Linked DNA regions of Homo sapiens: region 1 is linked to region 2. Evidence: fine-mapped expression QTL. Tissue or cell type: whole blood. Region 2 holds a variant in brackets; the other region holds the start of a gene. All regions are shown on one strand. Distances are from middle to middle.

Region 1 (5,147 bases), 62 kb before region 2:
GAACCCAGGAGGCGGAGGTTGCAGTGAGCCGAGATTGTGCCACCGCACTCCAGCCTGGGTGACAGAGTGATACCCTGTCTCAAAAAAAAAAGCCGAATAAACGAATAAAGATCTCATCTATGGCCGTACCACCCTGAATGTGTCCAATCTCAGAAGCTAAGCAGAGTTGGGCCTGGTTAGTACTTGGAGGGGAGAAATAACGGTCTATGCTAAAGGAAAATTCAGGTGCAATTAAAGTAAAATTAATTATATAAAAGAGAATACATTAAAAGCTAGTATTATTGTAACTTTGGTTTGTAATTCCACCAAGTGGAATTTGTTCCTGAAATGCTAGAATGGTTCAACATAAAAATCAATAAATGTAATAGACCACATTAACAGAAAAAAAACCCACACGGTCATCTCAATTGATGTCAAAAAAGTATTTGACAAAATTCAACACTCTTTTGAAAGAAGAAAAAGCTCAACAAACTAAGAATAGGAGGAAACTACCTCAAATAATAAAATCCATAGGCCAAATCCCCAAACTCACAGCTAGCAACATATTTAATGCTAAAGACTGAAAGCTTCCCCTTTAAGATCCGGAATAAGACAAAGATGCCCACTTTCACCACTTCTACTCAACATAGTATGGGAAGTTCTAGCCAGAGTAATCAGGTAAGAAAAAAGAAATAAAAAGCATCTGAATTGGAAAGGAAAAAGTAAAATTATTTGTTTGCCCAATACATGTACAATGTTTCAGGTGAAGGCTCAGAACAGTACAACCTTACCAGCAAGAGTCCTGCTGTCTCTGTGTGAATCCCAGCTATTACTCACTAGCTACATGATCTCTCTTGCCCTCCCTGCCTCAATTTCCTCATGTGTAAAGTGGGAGAAAAATAATAGTTCATGCTTCAAAGGTTTTTTGTTTGTTTGCTTGCTTTGAGACAGCGTCTGGCTCTGTCGCTCAGGCTGAAGTGCAGTGGTGCAATCTTAGGTCACTGCAACCTCAGCCTCCTGGGCTTAAGCGATCCTCCCACCTCGGCCTCCCAAAGTGTTGGGATACAGGCGTGAACCACTGTGTCTGACCCAAAGGATTATTTGAGGAGCAGATGAATTAATGTGTCATAACCTCAAAGCAGTTGCAAAGGCGTTTAATAATTAAAATATCACATTTTAAATTAAAATATAAGGCTGGGCGTGGTGGCTCATGCCTGTAATCCCAGCACTTTGGGAGGCTGAGGTGGGAGGATCACTTGAGCCCAGGAGTTCCACACTAGCCTGGGCACCATTGGGAGACCCTGTCTCTACACACACACGCACACACACACACACACACACAAACTTAAAGTAGCCAGGCGTGGTGCTGCGCGCCTGTTGTCCCAGCTACTCGGGAGGCTGAGGCGGGAGAATCACTGGAGCCTGGGAGTTCGAGGCTGCAGTGAGCCGAGATCGCACCACTGCACTCCAGCCTGGGCCACAGAGCAAGACGCTGCCTCAAACAAACAAACAAAAACAAAAATTAAAATATTAAGTAATAATTAACGAGTGTTAATATCCACTCGTTGTGGAGACAAGACCTGGACTTAGGAAACAGGCCCAGGGAAGTAGCAGAACAGTAGCGCTAGAGGACGCCTGGGAGAATCAGCGCGCGGCGGGAAGAGCCCGGGAAGCTTAGTGGGGAAGCGTCTCTTGATGGGGTGAGGAATTCTATAAATTAGTGGAGATGGAAAAAAAAAAAAAAAAGTATTCCCAAAGTGGGAGACAGCACTCAGAAAGACGTGGTGGTAAGAACGAGTATGAGTAACGGGGACAACGAGGACACTGGAGATTGGGGAGTGTTGGGCTGGAAGCTGGTGTGCAGCTGTGGGCAAGCTAGGGAGGACCCCGAAACCGCCAATGCGTTTCCCGGACGCAGACGCTGGCAGGACGGGAGGAACCCCGAGACCCCGCGCCATCCCTTCAGGAAGAGTTACTTCTCCCCGGCCAAGTTAGTGGGCCTTGGGCCTTCTTTCTGTTGGGATCCTCCTCGCGTGTCGCCATCGCTACAAGTGGGCAGCTCTGCGGGGAAAGCTGGGACGCTGGGGGCTTCACCAAGGAGGCTGGCGGCCGACCACTGGGAGGTCTGGCGGGGTGACGACCACTGGGAGGTTTGGGCAGGGCCTGACGGGGTGACGCGGTCAGCCCACTGGAGGCCGACACCCCCCGTCAGCCCAACCCCTGCACGCGCGGCCGCCAACCAAAGACCCGCGGCGCCGGCCTGCGAGCCCCCGCCCCGCGTTGCCCAGGAAACCGAGGGTGTGGCTCCGCGTTCTCTGGGCGTCCCAGGGACTGGGCGCACAGTGGTCGGCGGGATGAGGCGCCTGGTGACGGACGGGGCGAGGAGGGCAGCGATTGGTGAGATTAGGCGATGGGCGGGGAAGCCGCGCGGGGATTAGCGAGTTGCGGCGATGGGCGGGGCAGGCGCGCGGGGATTGGCGGGATGCGGCGCGCCGCGCGGTGAGTGGGGTCCAGGGAAACGGGGTCAGCTGGGGGTGGCAGTTCCAGGCCGCGAGGCCGGGCTCCTGGGTCGGTGGGCTGGTGTCTTGGCGGACGTCCCGCAGCTGCCGCGTGGATCCGAGCCGGGGCACCCGCCGTGACTGGGACAGCCCCCAGGGCGCTCTCGGCCCCATCCCGAGTAGCGCGGCCTGGCTGCTGCCGCCATCAAGCACGTTCGAGCCAAAAGCTCCTAACGAGTCACTCGTTAGACACGTGTGCGGAGCCTGTGTCCCAGGCCAGTGCTGTCCCGTGGAGATAGATTGCAAGCCGCTAGGGAATTTTTTAACTTTCTAGTAGGTGTACGAAAAAAGTAAAACGAAACAAATCAATTGGAGTAAATCCATAAATATATTCAAACTATTATTTCAATTGTATGTGAAAAAATTATTGGGATATTCTTTGTACTATTCTTAGAAATCCATTGTGTGTCCAACCCAAACATCACAGTTGGACTCACCACATCTCCTGTACTTCGTAGCCCTAGGTGGCTAGTGGCATAAGACACAAAAATCTCAGCTCTCCTGGAGCTTATGGTCTAGTTGGAGCAGGCAGACAATACATTTAAAATATACAGTTTGTTAGAAGGTAAATGTTGTAAACAACAATAACAGTTGAAGTACTGGGGAGAGTTGCAGTTGTAAATCAGATGGGCAGGGCACAAGGTAACATTTGAGTAAAGATGTAAGAACTTGAAGGAGATGGGCAAGTGAGCTCTATAAGTATACGGGAGAGGGGCAAGCAAGAGTTCAGAGGCCCCTTGCTGTGGGGAGGGATCCAAGGTGGAGGAGTGGGAACCAGGAGGGGAGAGGACCAGTGGAGCAGATCTCATAGGCAGTTGTAAGGACTTGGGGCCTTATTCAATGAAATGAGGACACTTTGGAGAGTTTTGAACAGAGCAGTGACTGATTTATGTTTTGGTTTTGGTTTAGTTCTATTATTATTTAATAATAGGCTTATTATTTCACAGAAGTTTTATTTAATAAGGCAGACCTCTTGTCTGGAAATGAGACAGGTGCCGGAGAGCTGGATGGAGGCAGATCGGGAATTCCATTTGGGGCAAACTGAACTTGATTGAGACCCTGGTAGTTGTCCAGATGGAACAGGACACCTGAGTCTAGGGTTCGGGAAGAACTCCAGATGGGACAAACACTCCTAGCTTTCCTTTTCTCTTTTTGGATGACCGCTACAGGGTGAGACATCGGTATCCAGGCACGATAAATTTCCAAGTGGACACAATGTCTGGTGTCAACTACAGCTGTTCTCCTTCTTTTCCCAGTATCCTTTGGGTGCAGTGAGACACCAGGAGAGCTGCTGCTTTGGGGGATGGACAGGGGCAGCAGGAATGCCTTTGTGTTTTCGCAGTGAACCTCCTTGGCCTGGGCGAAGCTGTGTGGACCAAGCAAGTCAGGAGTGTGGCCATGTTTTCTGAGCAGGCTGCCCAGAGGGCCCACACTCTACTGTCCCCACCATCAGCCAACAATGCCACCTTTGCCCGGGTGCCAGTGGCAACCTACACCAACTCCTCACAACCCTTCCGGCTAGGAGAGCGCAGCTTTAGCCGGCAGTATGCCCACATTTATGCCACCCGCCTCATCCAAATGAGACCCTTCCTGGAGAACCGGGCCCAGCAGCACTGGGGTAAGTGAGAGTTTGGGAAGGTGCTTCCCCCACAGCATCCCTGAACTTAGAAGTGTTCTGCAAGAGAATGGGAACAGTTTATCTAATTGATCCCACTTCCTGTTACCTTGGGAAAATTAACCTCTTTTTCCCTCAGTTTCTTCTTAAGATAGTAACAAGGATTAAATTAAGTAATTTGTGGGTTTGGAGTTAGTTTTAGTTCAGAGGCTGGTTGGAGATGAGGACTTAGTTCTGGCGGTGATGGCGATTACTTCACTGGCAGAGGAAAATGGTTTTCCTATCTTCAGTGCAGATTATTCAGGTATTTGCCTGTGCTGTAGCCAGAGAGCCCCTCAGTGTGGCAAGCCTGGCGCCAGGCACCAGGAGCCAAGACTGGTGAGGATGCACTCTCTGGTCTCGAGGGGACCCCCTCTGTTCACTCATGTCTGTTTGCCTCTCCTCCTGGCCCCCATATTTGCTGGCCATGAATTTTCCTGTCCCTTGGGCCCTCTGTCTTTCCTAATAAAGTGGCCTGCCCAACACAACCCTTGTTCTTTGCCCCCATTTCTTCCCTGGTGATCTCTCCTGCAGTTGGATTACTCTTGGTGGTGAAGCAGGGACCCCCATCTCCCCCTTTGAGTTTATTTGAGTTTTAGGTGCTGCTGCATTCCCCCATTCCTACCACTTACATAAGAGTGGCTTTCCAGGTAATTTTCAAATCCATCTCCTATTATATTTTTAAACTGAGGATTTAGTAGGTGAGACCAGGTCTTACTCATTTTTACTGTCCTTGGCACCAGGCAAAATGGATCTCAGCCCTAGTTGCACATTGGAATCCCCTGGGGAGCTTTGAGAAGCCCATCTCATCCCATGCCAAGCCAAGATCAATTCTCGTTATAGGCAGGCAGGAGAACCCTGGGCCTAGAAATCTAGCTAGAACCTCAAATTCATTAGGGATATGTATTAGTCCATTTTCACATTGCTATAAAAAACTACCTGAGATAGGGTAATTT
Region 2 (5,147 bases):
CCTATCTCCCTCTGGAGCCCCTCTCTGGGCAAAGGAAAGACCAATCAAAAGAGGGGTGCAGGACTATGGAGTGGCCAGACTCTGGGCTTGCAGCTGGGCTCCCACTGAAGAGCAAGGGCTGACAAATGGGCCCGGGATGCATGGGCGCAGTAAGGCCTCGCCCAGAGTGACTGGCACCTCCGCTCCGCCTCCCACCTTAGTATTCTGACACAAGGGCAGTCTAAATTAGCATCTGAATGACCTTAAAGCTTGTTGAGTCCTGGAAAGGCTAGAAGGGTGTGCCCCAGACCTCCTGCTCCTAGGGCCGTTGGGCAGTTGGCCAGAGCACCCAGACCGGCAGGCCCCGGAGACCCAGCCAGCCCCAAGCCTGCCCGCTCCAAACACGGACACCTGGCACCTGGCACTGGGGCCAGGCAGAGGGAAGGACCACCTGCCTCCTCTCCCTTCCGGAGACTTCATGCAGCCCCATGACCCTCCCACAGCCTGGTTTGGGGAAAGGGGACGCACTTTTGGTGGTGAATATGAGGGATTTCACTCTGACTCCCCAGAGAACATTTTCTTAAACCCTCCTGCACGGAGCAGGGGTGGAGTGGCGCGAACATCAAAGGTCGAGCTGCTATTCCCAGCTCAGGGGCTGCAGGAGGCAGGCAGGGTCAGGTTTCGACCAGGCTCGGCCTCCCTGTCCCTCCTCCAGCTCCATTCCGCACTTGCTCCTCTGTTCAGGATGTCTAGAATTTAGAGCACTTTAGAAACCAAAGGGTGCTGGGCACGGTGGCTCACTCCTGTAATCCCAGCACTTTGGGAGGCTGAGGCAGGCAGATCACCTGAGGTCAGGAGTTTGAGACCAGCCTGACCAACATGGTAAAACCCGTTTCTACTAAAAATACAAAATTAGCCGGGTGTGGTGGCGCTCACCTGTAATCCCAGCTACTTGGGAGGCTGAGGCAGAATCACTTCAACCCAGGAGATGGAGGTTGCAGTGAGCCAAGATCGTGCCACTGCACTCCAGCCTGGGCAAGAGGAGTAAAACTCCATCTCAAAAAAAAGAAAAAGAAAAAGAAAAGAAAAAAAAAAAACAAAGGGTGAGTGTCCCTTCCTGACCCTCAACTTCAGTCTGGCTGGAGTCACACTGGGCTGAGGGAACTATGGACAGCACCACCACAGATCACAGCCACTTGGGTGGGGCTGAAGTCCCCATTTTTTTCACCACTGGGCTATTTCTGTAGGCTGCTTGGTCTAACTCAGTTACTCCTTGACCTTTGGCAACATTTCTGTGGCCTCGTTCTCAGGGCTGGGAAGGAATTGGTGCCAGGGGAACTGGCTCTGTGGACCATAAAGGTCACATAGTGTCTGCTGTGTAAACAGGCTGGGGACAGAGGGGCTAAGGACACCTATTCCTTCCGGCATAGGGATGTCAGACCAGGCGATCATGGAGCTGAACCTGCCCACGGGGATCCCCATTGTGTATGAGCTGAACAAGGAGCTGAAGCCCACCAAGCCCATGCAGTTCCTGGGTGATGAGGAAACGGTGCGGAAGGCCATGGAGGCTGTGGCTGCCCAGGGCAAGGCCAAGTGAGGGGTGGGCTTGGGCAATAAAGGCACCTCCCCCAACAGCCTGGAGTCCAGCGCAGCCGTGCATGCCAGGCTCACACCGCCATCAGCTGTGGGGACTCCAGAACCAGGGGTGCAGCCACCCACCCTCCCCCACTCCATACGTGTGTCACCAGGGGCAGGAGCCTAGTACCCACACCTAGTCATCAGGACACTGAGCCAGGGCTGCAACCACTCCATGAGTTTGCAGTCAGGACAAGCCTGTGGTGACCCTGAAGCTTCAGAGCCACTTAGTAACCATGCTCCAGAATTGGCGTGCTTGGGGCCAGTTAGAAGAGGCCAAGTGACCCAGCTCTCCCCATGGGGAGCAAGGACCACAGCCCAGGACACGGCTTCCTGGACAGCTTCCTGCAGAGGGCAGGTGGTCCTCTGCTGTCCTTGCAACCCC[C/T]GGGTGGCACTTTGAGCCCTGCCTCTTGGGTTGGGACAGGCAAGCCCACAGGGGGCCTCAAAGCTGGCAACAGCCCAAACCTGGGTCTTCCATGGGAGTGGAGGGGAAGTTCCCTCTTCATGGGAGAGGCACCAGGAAGCCCTGGCGAAAAGGGGAGAGGCCTGAGCACAGGAAGGCCAGGAGCAAGGTTGGGCTCCATGCAGCCTTCACCCCAGGCACTAGCAGGTAACACCTTGAGTCAACCGCCTAGCAGTCTGCCTAGCAGCTCTGGGGCACAGGAGGGACCTAATTCCCCGGATGCTCAGTGGGTGCCAGGTACCTGACGCCACACAGTGGGCCATCCCATGTAGGCAGAGGCTCCCTGAAGCTGGGAGCAGGGCAGCCCTTGGCCTCTCCTAGAGGAACTGGAACGCAGGAAGGCTCCAACTTCAGTCCCATCTTAACATTTAGCCTCTTCCTGGTGGCTGATCATCATCAGCCACAGTCTCAGGGTGAGGGTGCTCACCCCAGACACGGAGCAGAGGCAGACACTGGGCAGGTGGTGGGGTGCTATTCCCACATGGGAGCATTCAGGCTACAGCAGGACAGGTGAGAGCTGCGAGCCTGTGTAGACCAAACTGGGAATTCGTGGTCCAAAAGCATATTTGTTCTTCAGAGACACGGATGAGCTGGGACAGAAAATAGGGGAAGACAACAGGCCAAGGCCACTCTGTGTTACTTTTCCTGAAGTCAGAATCAGTTGAGGCACACACTGGGGCCTGCAGGCATCGAGTGAGCCGCGTGGAGGAACATGTTGTGTCTGCCGTTTTTGAATACCCAGGGTGGGAGCTTGGCCATCTGCATCCCCACTTCCCATAGCCCAGGCAGAGGGACAGAGAAATGGAGTGGGGAGCACAGAGCAGGCTCCAACAAGACAAATTCCCTGCTGCCAAACCACCATGATCCACTCTGACTTTGGTCACAAACTCTGCTAAAAACAATTCTCTACGTTCACTGTTCCCAAGGGTCATTCTAAACAGTGGTGGCCACCACCCCTTAGAAGCAAGAGAAAAAGAAAAAAGGCAAATAAATGCAGAAGGCAGCCAGAGCCTCCCAGATGCCCCTGCTCAGGACCCTTCCCCGCAGCTTGGCAGTGGCCACTCAGGGCTTGGCCACAGGCAGGGCTTGGCTCAGTATCCTGTCAGGGGCAAGAGCCAAGCTGTCTGGGAGGGTCGGGGGATGCAGGAAGGATGTGTGGGAATCACCAGGCCATTGCTGCATTTGGGGTGACAGGCTGAGTCTGCCAAGCCGGAGGGAGCCCTGAGGCCTCATCCTCACTGGGGGTCCTATTCCTGGAAGAGTGCTGAATGTCAACTCCCAGGCCTCCTCTTCCAGCAATAAGGAAGCCATGTCTGAGAGGGGAAGGGCAAGATGTGCCCTCAGCCTCACTCAATGAGCTCCACGTAGTTGGCAGGGAACATGCCAAAATGGCCATCCGGCCCATAGCCACGCCACCAGCCTTCGTCGATCACCTCGATGCCCGTGATGAGGTTCTCGGGGTCAAAGGAGATCTCTGTGTCGTCGGCTGCAAAGAGGATGAGCCCAGATGCATATCAGGGGCTCCCTCCCACATCCCACCTGCTCGGGCAGCCCACGGCAGCCCCACACTGCTGCAGCACACCTCGCTGCAGCTCTGGTTCCTCCTCAGAAATATCCCTGCCACCCTGCTAAGCCTTGGCCAACACTGCACCCTGTCCCAATGCGGCTCCAGTGACCACACCCCCAGGGCATACCCTCCTACAGAGCATTCCCAAAAAAGGCTAGAGTAGACACCAGCCTGCTCCGTAGGGGGCCTCCACCCCATTCTCCAAGGCCTCCACCCAGGGACGCCTGGTGAACCAGCATCCAGGCCTGGCCCACCTCCCTGCTCAGAGTCCATGTTCTGTGACAAGGGTGGCAACTGGGATTCACATCAGCGGCCAGCAAATAGCTAATGAGGAACATGTAGGGAGGCCTGGGCTGTGCAGAACACTCTAGTGCCACAGTCACCCCCACTCCAGAGGTGCTTCTACCCCTAAACGCACCGCCCACCCTCCTGTCTTCTCTTCCTGATACCCCCTGGTGCCATCTTCCCATAAAACCCCAGACCCTCTTGTCTCCTAACCTCAGGACCCTGTGGTCTGTGCCAGCCAGGCCAGGGCACCTTACCTGCCTGGTAGTCGTACAGGGCACGGGCACAGAGCCCTTGCCCACTGAGCCCCTGGCCCTGAATGTGGTGGTCAATGTGCTCAGAGCCAGCACCTTGCTGCTGCACCTGCCCAGGGATGACAAAGGTGTTACCCCAGACTCAGCCCTTACACACAATCGCTGCTCTGCCCCACATGGCTCAGGTCAAGCTGGGAGTACGCAGAGGGCAAGCAGTCTACAGGCTCGGGGGCTGGGCTGCTGCTGTCCCCGCCCTACCAGAGTACAGAAGCCACAGGACAGTGCATAAATCCCTCAGCCATAGGCTGCAAGGTCCTCTTCCCACCCAGCACCTCCTATAGAGTGGGGCGTGCCCTGACAATTTATAACACAGGGCTGCTCCAAAAATGCATGTGCTTTAAAACCTGTTGCATGCCCCCAGAAAACTCAGGCGGCCCGTGATAAGTGTTCCTGAGTATGCAGCCCCTTCCTGGCCCCAGCCCCAGTGTAGGAACCCACCAGTGGGGGCTGCTCGTAGAAGGTCTCCTGCTCTGGAGGTTCCTCATACACAGCCTCCTCTTCTGCCTGCACCAGACATGGAGGAGTGCTGGGCGCCGGCTCCTCAGCAGGGAGATCTGCACCAGGGAACACAGCAGGTTCTCACTCCCACACATCCCCCTTCTCCACTGCTGTCCCCCAGGGTCCCCATGGGGTGACAAGCGCCTTGCCTGCCCTGGGCCTTGAGATGGCAGCAGCTGGCTCTCTGCCAAAGTGGGTCTCTGGTTGGGTGAGCTGCTTCTGCAGGAAGGGGCTCCTCAGCTTGCCTGCAAACCCGGGTAAATATATACATCACTTCAGAAACACCACCACACACCCACGCACCCCACAGCACCCTCCACCCTGGTGTGCTCGAGGCAGTCTCATGGGGCTTGCTCTTGCTAGTGCAGGAACAGAGGCCCCAGGGCCATGTGCTATGTGGTGACGT

The links. PIP is the estimated chance that this variant, and not a neighbour inherited with it, causes the effect.
Region 1: POLD2 starts here. The variant in region 2 is fine-mapped to the expression of POLD2 in whole blood (TOPMed, PIP above 0.99).

What each region holds. Positions count from the first base shown.
Region 1 is chr7:44,120,842-44,125,988 of GRCh38, reverse strand. POLD2 (DNA polymerase delta 2, accessory subunit) reads left to right here and starts at 2,441. Exons shown (of 11, transcript NM_006230.4): 1 at 2,441-2,478; 2 at 3,880-4,155. The coding sequence starts at 3,936. It also overlaps the pseudogene RNA5SP230. RefSeq lists enhancers at 1,776-1,835, 1,355-2,259 and a silencer at 2,046-2,755.
Region 2 is chr7:44,059,193-44,064,339 of GRCh38, reverse strand. DBNL (drebrin like) reads right to left here. Exons shown (of 13, transcript NM_001014436.3): 10 at 4,891-4,986; 11 at 4,682-4,797; 12 at 4,187-4,292; 13 at 1-3,563. The coding sequence ends at 3,424. PGAM2 (phosphoglycerate mutase 2) reads left to right here. Exons shown (of 3, transcript NM_000290.4): 3 at 1,410-1,613. The coding sequence ends at 1,576. Among named protein-coding and RNA genes, the nearest start is that of PGAM2, 3.8 kb to the left of the region's middle. RefSeq lists enhancers at 81-190, 3,714-4,290, 4,291-4,866, 4,810-4,969. The variant C/T (reference allele first, on the strand shown) is at 2,000.